2 linked regions of the Homo sapiens genome follow. The protein of the gene in region 1 purifies or fractionates together with the protein of each later gene. This does not show direct contact. Each region holds a gene or a part of one and is shown in the gene's direction. Other genes may lie near its edges. The genes, in order: RAB41 and PPP5C.

What was found.
Region 2: the proteins of RAB41 (region 1) and PPP5C purify together in Homo sapiens (affinity purification with mass spectrometry; 2 studies listed by BioGRID and IntAct, with this or other methods). This does not show direct contact.

The regions. Positions count from the first base shown.
Region 1 is NC_000023.11:70,280,958-70,285,233, forward strand, and holds RAB41 (ras-related protein Rab-41), read left to right. Parts: upstream 1-1,214; 5' UTR 1,215-1,260; coding exon 1,261-1,384; intron 1,385-1,575; coding exon 1,576-1,634; intron 1,635-1,844; coding exon 1,845-1,898; intron 1,899-2,310; coding exon 2,311-2,416; intron 2,417-2,555; coding exon 2,556-2,667; intron 2,668-2,992; coding exon 2,993-3,086; intron 3,087-3,308; coding exon 3,309-3,372; coding exon of another isoform or gene 3,373-3,479; exon of another isoform or gene 3,480-3,630; coding exon 3,631-3,686; 3' UTR 3,687-4,045; downstream 4,046-4,276. Other genes in the region: ARR3 (arrestin-C), read left to right, coding at 142-151, 719-809. UniProt on the Homo sapiens protein: The small GTPases Rab are key regulators of intracellular membrane trafficking, from the formation of transport vesicles to their fusion with membranes.
Region 2 is NC_000019.10:46,381,415-46,385,223, forward strand, and holds part of PPP5C (serine/threonine-protein phosphatase 5), read left to right. Parts: exon of another isoform or gene 1-1,110; intron 1,111-1,996; coding exon 1,997-2,062; intron 2,063-2,365; coding exon 2,366-2,464; intron 2,465-3,389; coding exon 3,390-3,495; intron 3,496-3,809. UniProt on the Homo sapiens protein: Serine/threonine-protein phosphatase that dephosphorylates a myriad of proteins involved in different signaling pathways including the kinases CSNK1E, ASK1/MAP3K5, PRKDC and RAF1, the nuclear receptors NR3C1, PPARG, ESR1 and ESR2, SMAD proteins and TAU/MAPT.

The DNA.
Region 1 (4,276 bases):
GGAAGTGTGTGTGTCGTGTGTGCTGGAGCAAAGGATTGGGAAGTTGGGGGGGGGGGAAGTAAAGATACTTCTTCAGGGAACCGAAGAGCCTCTAATCAGCTTCAGCTCCATTTTTTCCCTCCGTCTCCATGCTTGCTACAGAGGCCGCTAGGTAATGGAATACAAGATTGGGAAGCCCCATTCCCCTCTTCCCATTTCCACCCTCCATGTTATGACGATAGAAATGTGAAAATGCTTCCTTGGGGTGCTTTCAATACATGTGCAGTGGAAACATATGGCTTAGCTTCGTGTCACAGTTCGGTGCTTTTCATATGCCCTCCTTTCCCTTTCTGCATCCCCCCGCCCTCCACCTTCTGCTCTTGTTGGAATCATCCTTCCCCCTCATCCCCTTCCCATTTTTCTTTTTCCTTTTCCCCCACCCGCTCGCCCTTACTTCTTTCGTCTTTCATTCTTTGATACCTTCCCTCCTTCCCATCCCTCATCCTTATGTCCCTTTCAGTGCTCCTGGGGGACTTTTGTGCTGGGAAATTTGGGCGGGAATGAAAGGAAACAAGCCAGAGTGGCTGATGGAAAAGTGGGGACACCAAGAGGGGGCCGAGGAGCCTACCTGGGAAGCAGGGAGGGGATCACTTTTCTGGGATCAGGAAAAAAGAGTGGACACGGAGGACACCCAGAAAGGGGTTCCTAACCTTCCATTCTCTTCTGCTGCTTCTGCAAGCTCTGAGGACATAGTCATCGAGGAGTTTACGCGGAAAGGCGAGGAGGAGAGCCAGAAGGCTGTGGAGGCTGAGGGAGATGAGGGGAGCTGAGCACCTCGCTCTGGTGCCCGTCTGTGTGGGAGCCCCCACTGTAACACTCTAATAAATCAGTTTGTTCAGATGTGCCTAGCGATCTCTTGCCTATTTCCTCTTCCTGGAGGGTCACGGAACTACTGAGAACAATCTTCCCCACCTCCACCCCTTTGCTGTGATTACACTACACTTAGCCCGTGCTTTTCCCCATACGCTGACCCCAACTTCCCTCTGACACGGTCAGTGGCCATCCCTCTCTCCACCCCATGACCCCACTCGAGTGGTCATAGGATTGCGCTGAACACCAGGCGCAGTGCAAGCTGCCAGGAGGGGGCCGAGGGGGCGTGGCCATGCCCAGGCCTGGGTGTGAAGCCAATGGCCGTCAGCCGACGTCAGTAGAGCATGGCGTGAAGTCCGGCGGCTCAGGCTGAGCGTTGGAAGCCATTTTGGCTGCAACCTACCTGAAGCGATGTCTGCCTTTGGTCACGACGAGGCCTGGATGGAGGCCGGAGGCTTTGGTCTGGAGGCTGCCGAAAGAACGGAATACCAGTCTCTGTGCAAATCTAAACTCTTATTCCTGGGAGAGCAGAGCGGTGTGGGTCTGGGTTGGGCTTTGGGGACATGGAGGTGTAATTGGTATGAAATGGGGTGGGGCATTCTCTGGGGAACCGAGTTCCTCCTCGTTGGGAAAGATTGGAGTTGGAGGAGGAGGGAGGGCTCATAGAAACTTTGAGGGGAGAAAGGGCACTGAGGGCGACGATTGGCCTGCTTATCTCCCTCACAGTAGGGAAGACATCCATCATCAGCCGCTTCATGTACAACAGCTTCGGCTGCGCCTGCCAGGTAAGACCACCACCGAGTCATATGGTACATTTTTGCCACTCTTCTTGGCGGACTCACCTGGAGATTCTCCTCCTCAAAGTTATGTATTGTAAGCATTGGGAAGTGGAGCCAGGACAACTTCTTGAAGGGTCATTCTCCACTTTGGGTTCTAAGACTGCCTCATATTGGGAATAGAGGGAATGCTGGAGTGTATCTGATTTTCTTTTGCAGGCAACTGTTGGAATTGACTTCTTGTCTAAGACCATGTACTTGGAGGACCAAATAGTGAGTGTTAACTCTCATACCACTAACCCTACACTTCAACCCCTTAGGCCTATTCATCACAGTTGGGTAGCACCATCAAAAAAAACTGAAGCCTCTTCAAATTACCAAGCCCTATGATGTTTCTTGTTCTGTCTGCCTTCATCTAATCTCCAACTGTAACATAAAGTCCAAGAGACCTTGAATCCTTAAATCTGCTGTGCTGTAGGGTCTTCCTGAATCAAAACAGTATATTGAAATTGGTTGGACCTGTCCTAGGACTATAGGCCATTTGGTCTGAGGCTATAGCAGCCACTTCTCAGGGATCCAGTCTACCTGACCTTTTGTATTCTGCCTTTATTAGGTTTGAGCTTTTTAAAAAGGCTAGTTTCTTGTCTACCTTTCCCCCATCTTCTTCCTAAACATTTTTATGCAGGTTCAGCTGCAGCTATGGGACACAGCTGGCCAGGAGCGCTTTCACAGCCTAATTCCTAGCTACATTCGTGATTCAACTATTGCAGTGGTTGTCTATGACATTACAAGTGGGTGTTATGCAATGTTTTATTTGAAAAGGGGATTATAAAGGGATTGATAGGGAGATTGACAAAATTAGCAGAGAGGAAGTGTTCTCTCCAAATCTCTCCTAAATGTTTCAACGCTCTGGAACATATTCTCTTGCAGACATCAATTCTTTTAAGGAGACAGATAAGTGGGTAGAACACGTGCGAGCAGAAAGAGGTGACGATGTTGTCATCATGTTGTTGGGTAACAAGATTGATTTGGATAACAAAAGGTAAAGTATAACTACAACTTCTTCTGGCATACCTAAAATTCAGTCTCTATGGGGAGGGTCAACTGTCCTCTATTTACTTGGGGAGGAGTTACCTTAGTCCCCTCTGCCCCCTACCAGCACTGCAGGATGGGAAGGACAGGGGGGCGTCCCATCAGGGCACAAGGATATGTTGGGGGTATAGGAGAGAGTCCCCACCCTGTAGTCAGAAGGGTCATGGGTTTAAGGCTTCTAGGGTTCCTGGCCCTAGGTAAGCATCATTACACCTCAGAAGAGTCTATCCATATCCAATAACTCTGGCCCTTTTCATCATTTCTGATTCGTCCAGACAAGTCACTGCAGAACAGGGTGAAGAAAAATCCAGAAACCTCAATGTGATGTTTATTGAGACCAGTGCCAAAACCGGTTACAACGTGAAAAAGGTAATACTTGTTTCTTTCTATGATACTTTAATTGTGCTCTGTCTGTAGCTACTACTACTGTTTACTCTTTTGGATAAGCTTGGCTTATCTTTTGTGGGATAGGGGTCAAGGTTCATCTCCCCATCATGTATCTCAAAGGCCCTGAATTATCCTAGCCTCTGAACCTGACCTTTTTTTTTTCCCCTTTTTTTTTTTTTGGTCCCCATTCACACACACACACAGCTGTTCCGGCGTGTGGCTTCTGCCCTTCTTTCCACAAGGACTTCACCTCCACCAAAAGAGGGGAGTATCCTTTTTCCTAGCTTTGCTGGGGTAGGGAGTATACAAGTAGAGAAGGTAAGTTTCCTTGCTGAGTTGATGCCTGAGTGGTACCTAAGGGGAAAATGGGACTAACTTTAGCCCAAAGTAGTTCCTTCGTTTGCCTTTAGGTGAGAGGGATTGTAAGATCAGAATTCCTCTTCTACATCTCCTAGAAGCTGACCTTGGGTGTTAAGATTTGACTCCAGTCACCTCACTGTATTAGCTTCCTTGACACACACTTCAGCGGTTGAAATCGAACTGGAATCCTTCGAGGAGTCAGGCAACAGAAGCTATTGTTGACAGCTTAGGCTTTCTCTGCCTCATTTGATGGATTTCTTACATTTGGGCTTGCCATACCAGTTCTCCTCCCCACCTCGTTTTATGATACATGGCCACTTACTCTCTTCCAATTCCTAGGCTTGGGGTAAAAACAGAACCCCTGAAAGTGCTATCATTTTTTCCTGACCGCATCTCACAGCTACTGGGTGGAAGCTTCTTGCAGCACCTGGGAATTCTACCTTACCTTCTCCGACAGCTAAAAGACATCTGTAGAGAATACAGTTCTACAGCAGCTGACATACTTCAAAGGCCAATACAATTCATTCTCCACTGTTTGTTGTTGTTTACCTACACCCTCAATAAATGGTTCTTTAACCTAAGGCTGTTATTGCTTGTGCTTTCTCCACACTATACCTATATTTCCACAATGCAATTATCTCATGTTGGTGCCCTAACATAGAACCAATCCAAGTATTTCAAACAAGAACCAATTTAAGGCAGGAGGGTTTTTGCCTCTTAGGCCCATGGCACCTGGCTGGGACTTTTTACCATGTTTTTCATACTTCTTAGATACAATGTTTTAAGACCTGTTAACCACAGGAAGAGTCTTG
Region 2 (3,809 bases), on another chromosome or scaffold:
CATTAGAGACTGAGGTAAATAAAGTTTTTCCTCAGAAAATGGCACACTTAGGCTGGGCACCATGGCTCAGGCCTGTAATCCTAGCACTTTGGGAGGCCAAGGTGGGCAGATCGCTTGAGCCCAGTAGTTCAAGACCAGCCTGGGCAACTTGTAGAAACCCCACCTCTACAAAAAAAATACAAAAATTAGCCAGGCATGGTGGTTGGCACCTGTAGTCCTAGCTACTTGGGAGGCTGAGTGGGGAGGATCACCTGAACCTGGGAGGTTGAGGCTGCAGTGAACTGTGTTCGAGCCACTGCACTCCAGCCTGGGTGACAGAGTGAGACCCTGTCTTAAAACAAATAAACAAATAAGAAAATGGCACACATTTCTCCTGTTGAGCCACAAGAGGGAGGGGCTGTGTGAACCTCATCTGTAGTTTAGGGGCAGCTTTTATTGGAGTTTCTTTACCACCGGCTTTAAATGTGTTCAGAGTAGAATTAGGACTTTCCCTTCAGCAGAGCTTGGGATCTTAGCCCTGGCAGAATTCCAGGGATGTCTTTATGTTTTAAAGTCGCCAGCTTTTGGAACTGTGGGAGGCCTCTGGTATTCAGCCCTGCCGCCAGACTGTGGGGCCACTGGGGTGCTCTCCGCTCTCCAGTCTCGCCCCCACTTCTGTACCTCAGGAGGTTTCTCTGCACCTCACTCCCTCGCGCCCAACCTTCCATGAAGCCCGTGTGAGGGAGTTGGCAGGGGGCAGAGGCGGGCTGTGCTGGGGCTCCCTGGAGTCCTCATCTGTCACGCCAGTCCCCACACGGTCATGAACTTCCACTCATTTCCCCTCACGCAGGGCATCCCGCCCTGCTGCCTCGCACCAGGGTGAAAGCTGTGGGCTCCTTCCCCAAGGAAGGGCTCGTCCTGTCTGCATTTTGATTAATTTAGGTCCCTTTGCATTGCCAGCTCTCAGATGGCTTTACCTTTGATTTTGTTGCTTGTTTGGCTTGTTTTCATCTTTAGGGCGAGACAGTCTTTTGTAACTTTTCTACCTTCTGACTAGAAGTGGATGCCGCCTGCATTTTCTTAACACCTTTTTCCCCAGCTTATTTTGGAAATCGTCAGACCTACAGAGAGCTGAAAGAACAGTACAGTTAACATCTGTCCACCCTTCACACAGATTCACCACTTGTGAACATTTTAATGCATTAACTTTATGTGTCTGTCTACTTATTTATGCATTTGTATGTGTATACTTTTTTCTTTTTTTTCCCCTAACCCATTTGAAAGTAAGTTGCAGCCATCATAACCTGGATCTCCCAAAAACAAAGACGTCCTCTTGTGTGACCACAGTTGAATTGTCCTACCTTAGAAATTCATCATTGATGTGATAATACTGACTAAGGTAGACAGTCCACAGGCCATCCGGAAAATCTGGAAACATTGACAAATATGCATGTCATTGTCAAGGTCATATCCAATCTGTGAAAAATAAATCATCTGCATTTCTAGACATCTATTAGTATTTTAATTCTCCCCAGCTCTCCCCAAAACATCCTTTTTAGCTGCTTTTAAAAAATTCAGCGTCCGTTGAAAGCACCAGTGTTGCCTATGACCTGCCTTTTTACCTCTTTTTACCTAGAAAGTCTCACTTCTTTTTTGGGAGACTCTTTTATGACAGTGACATTGCGCTGTGTCCAGGCCAGTTCTTTTATAAAATGTTCTACGATCTGGATTCATGCATGTATTTCCACTTGATGCTGAGTATTTTAAGATAATTCAAGAATCAGGTTTTCGTACAAAACAATCGCAATGCTTCGGCACTGCACAGGCCACAGAAGCCTGCGGCTGCCTCCGGCCCCGCCTGCTCCCGCTCCCCCAGGCCTGCCCTGCCCTTTTTCTTCTCTCCCTGCTTCTCCCTCGCCCTCAGCCCAGCAGCGTCTCATGGGCAGTCCAGGCTTTCGGGGCCAGGTTGGGCAGCAGCCCCTGCAGCCGGTCCCACTGAGTCTGCCCTGCCTTCCAGATTCTGGTACAGGTCAAAGAGGTCCTCTCCAAGCTGAGCACGCTCGTGGAAACCACACTCAAAGAGGTGCGCGTTGTGGGGCAGTGCGGGGAGGGCCAGCGGGGGTGGGCTCTCTGGCTGGGGAGGGGCCACAGAGCTCAGGAACTCACGGATCCACCTCCCTCTCTCCCTCACACCCCACCCCTGTGCCTTTCCTCCTGAATATCCCATTTCTCTCCTGGCCTCTTGGTCTTCGTTTGTGTTCCCTGCTTGTGTCTCTTGCATGATTCTTCTTGGTCTACTGTGAACTCTTACCCTTCCCCTCACCTCTGCCCCCTCCCCACGTCTCTCTCTCGGCCCGTCCCTCTCCGGTGGCCTCTTTTCTTTCAGACAGAGAAGATTACAGTATGTGGGGACACCCATGGCCAGTTCTATGACCTCCTCAACATATTCGAGCTCAACGGTTTACCCTCGGAGACCAACCCCTATGTATCCTTCTCAGCAGAGCCACCCTCTCCCCACCTCCACCCCCAGCCGCAGCCTCAGGTCTGCACAGAGTGGGAGGAGCCCTTGCCAGGAAAAGACGTGACCTTGGAAAGGAGAGGCCTGGCCATGCTGGGGCACCAAGGTGTGGGTGGAGCTGCAGGCTGGCCATGCACCCCAGGCTCCAGGCTCGGACAGGCCTGGGCCAGCACCCACCTGCTGTGTGACCTAAGCTGGTAGCTCAGTCTCTCTGGGTCTTGGCTTGTCTTCGTCTGCCTCAGGATCACATTTGAATGGCACCTGGCACTGGCCACACTTGGGTTCCATCCTGGCTTTGCCACTTCCCAGCTGTGTGACCGAAGCAGGTTACTTCACTGCTTGGTGTCACAGTTTCCCCATTTGCAAAGAGGGATAATAATATGTGCAACCTTGTTACTCAGCAGTTACTGAGAGGACAGGTTAAGAACAGGGCCTGGCCCACACCTGATGCTATCTAAGTATTTCCCCGTGTTATGGTATCTGCTCGATGAACGGCCACTTGTAGGGCCACTAGGCCTATGCATTGTTGAGTGGGAGGGCCCGTGTCCCATCTCCCCCATGGCTCCAGGCCTCTCTGAGGAGAGCTGAAGGAGGTGGACTGACTAGTCCCCGCACCTCCCCGCCACTGGCTTTCCGGGAGACAGGAGGCAGGGTCCTCAGTGCCATACTACTGAGGCTCAGCGGCCAAGCTCTGGCTGGAGCCACGGTGAGGAAAGGATTAGAAACCCAGATCCCTTGAGCCCTGCCAAGTCCTCACTCCCTGGGAGGTGCTGACAGGAGGCTTGAGGCCAGGCAGGAGCAGCCCATCTGGCCCATCTTCTGCCACCACCCCCAACCCCACCGCACCGCACCCTTCCCCTCCACGCTTGCCATGTTTTCCTCAGCAGGACAGATATTTAATGGTGACTTTGTGGACCGAGGCTCCTTCTCTGTAGAAGTGATCCTCACCCTTTTCGGCTTCAAGCTCCTGTACCCAGATCACTTTCACCTCCTTCGAGGTGAGCTGGGAAGTGACAAGGTTTGGGTTCATTGTGGGGTCCTGAGTGGGGCACTCACTCTGCAAGGATAATAGTTGCAGCTGTATTTATTTTGTGGACTCGGAGATCATGCACAGGGCGACCTTTTAAGATTGAGTATGTAGTGCACTGCACAAAAGCATCACACCAAAGGACGCGTTTACATCATAGATAGTGTAGAAATGGATGTTTACTCTGACCATTTTTCAGCAGATGGCAAACAAGGGTGTGAGGATGGGCCCCTTATTCTAATTTGCACAAGGGCATGAAACAGGCTCCTGGGTGGCCCTAAATCT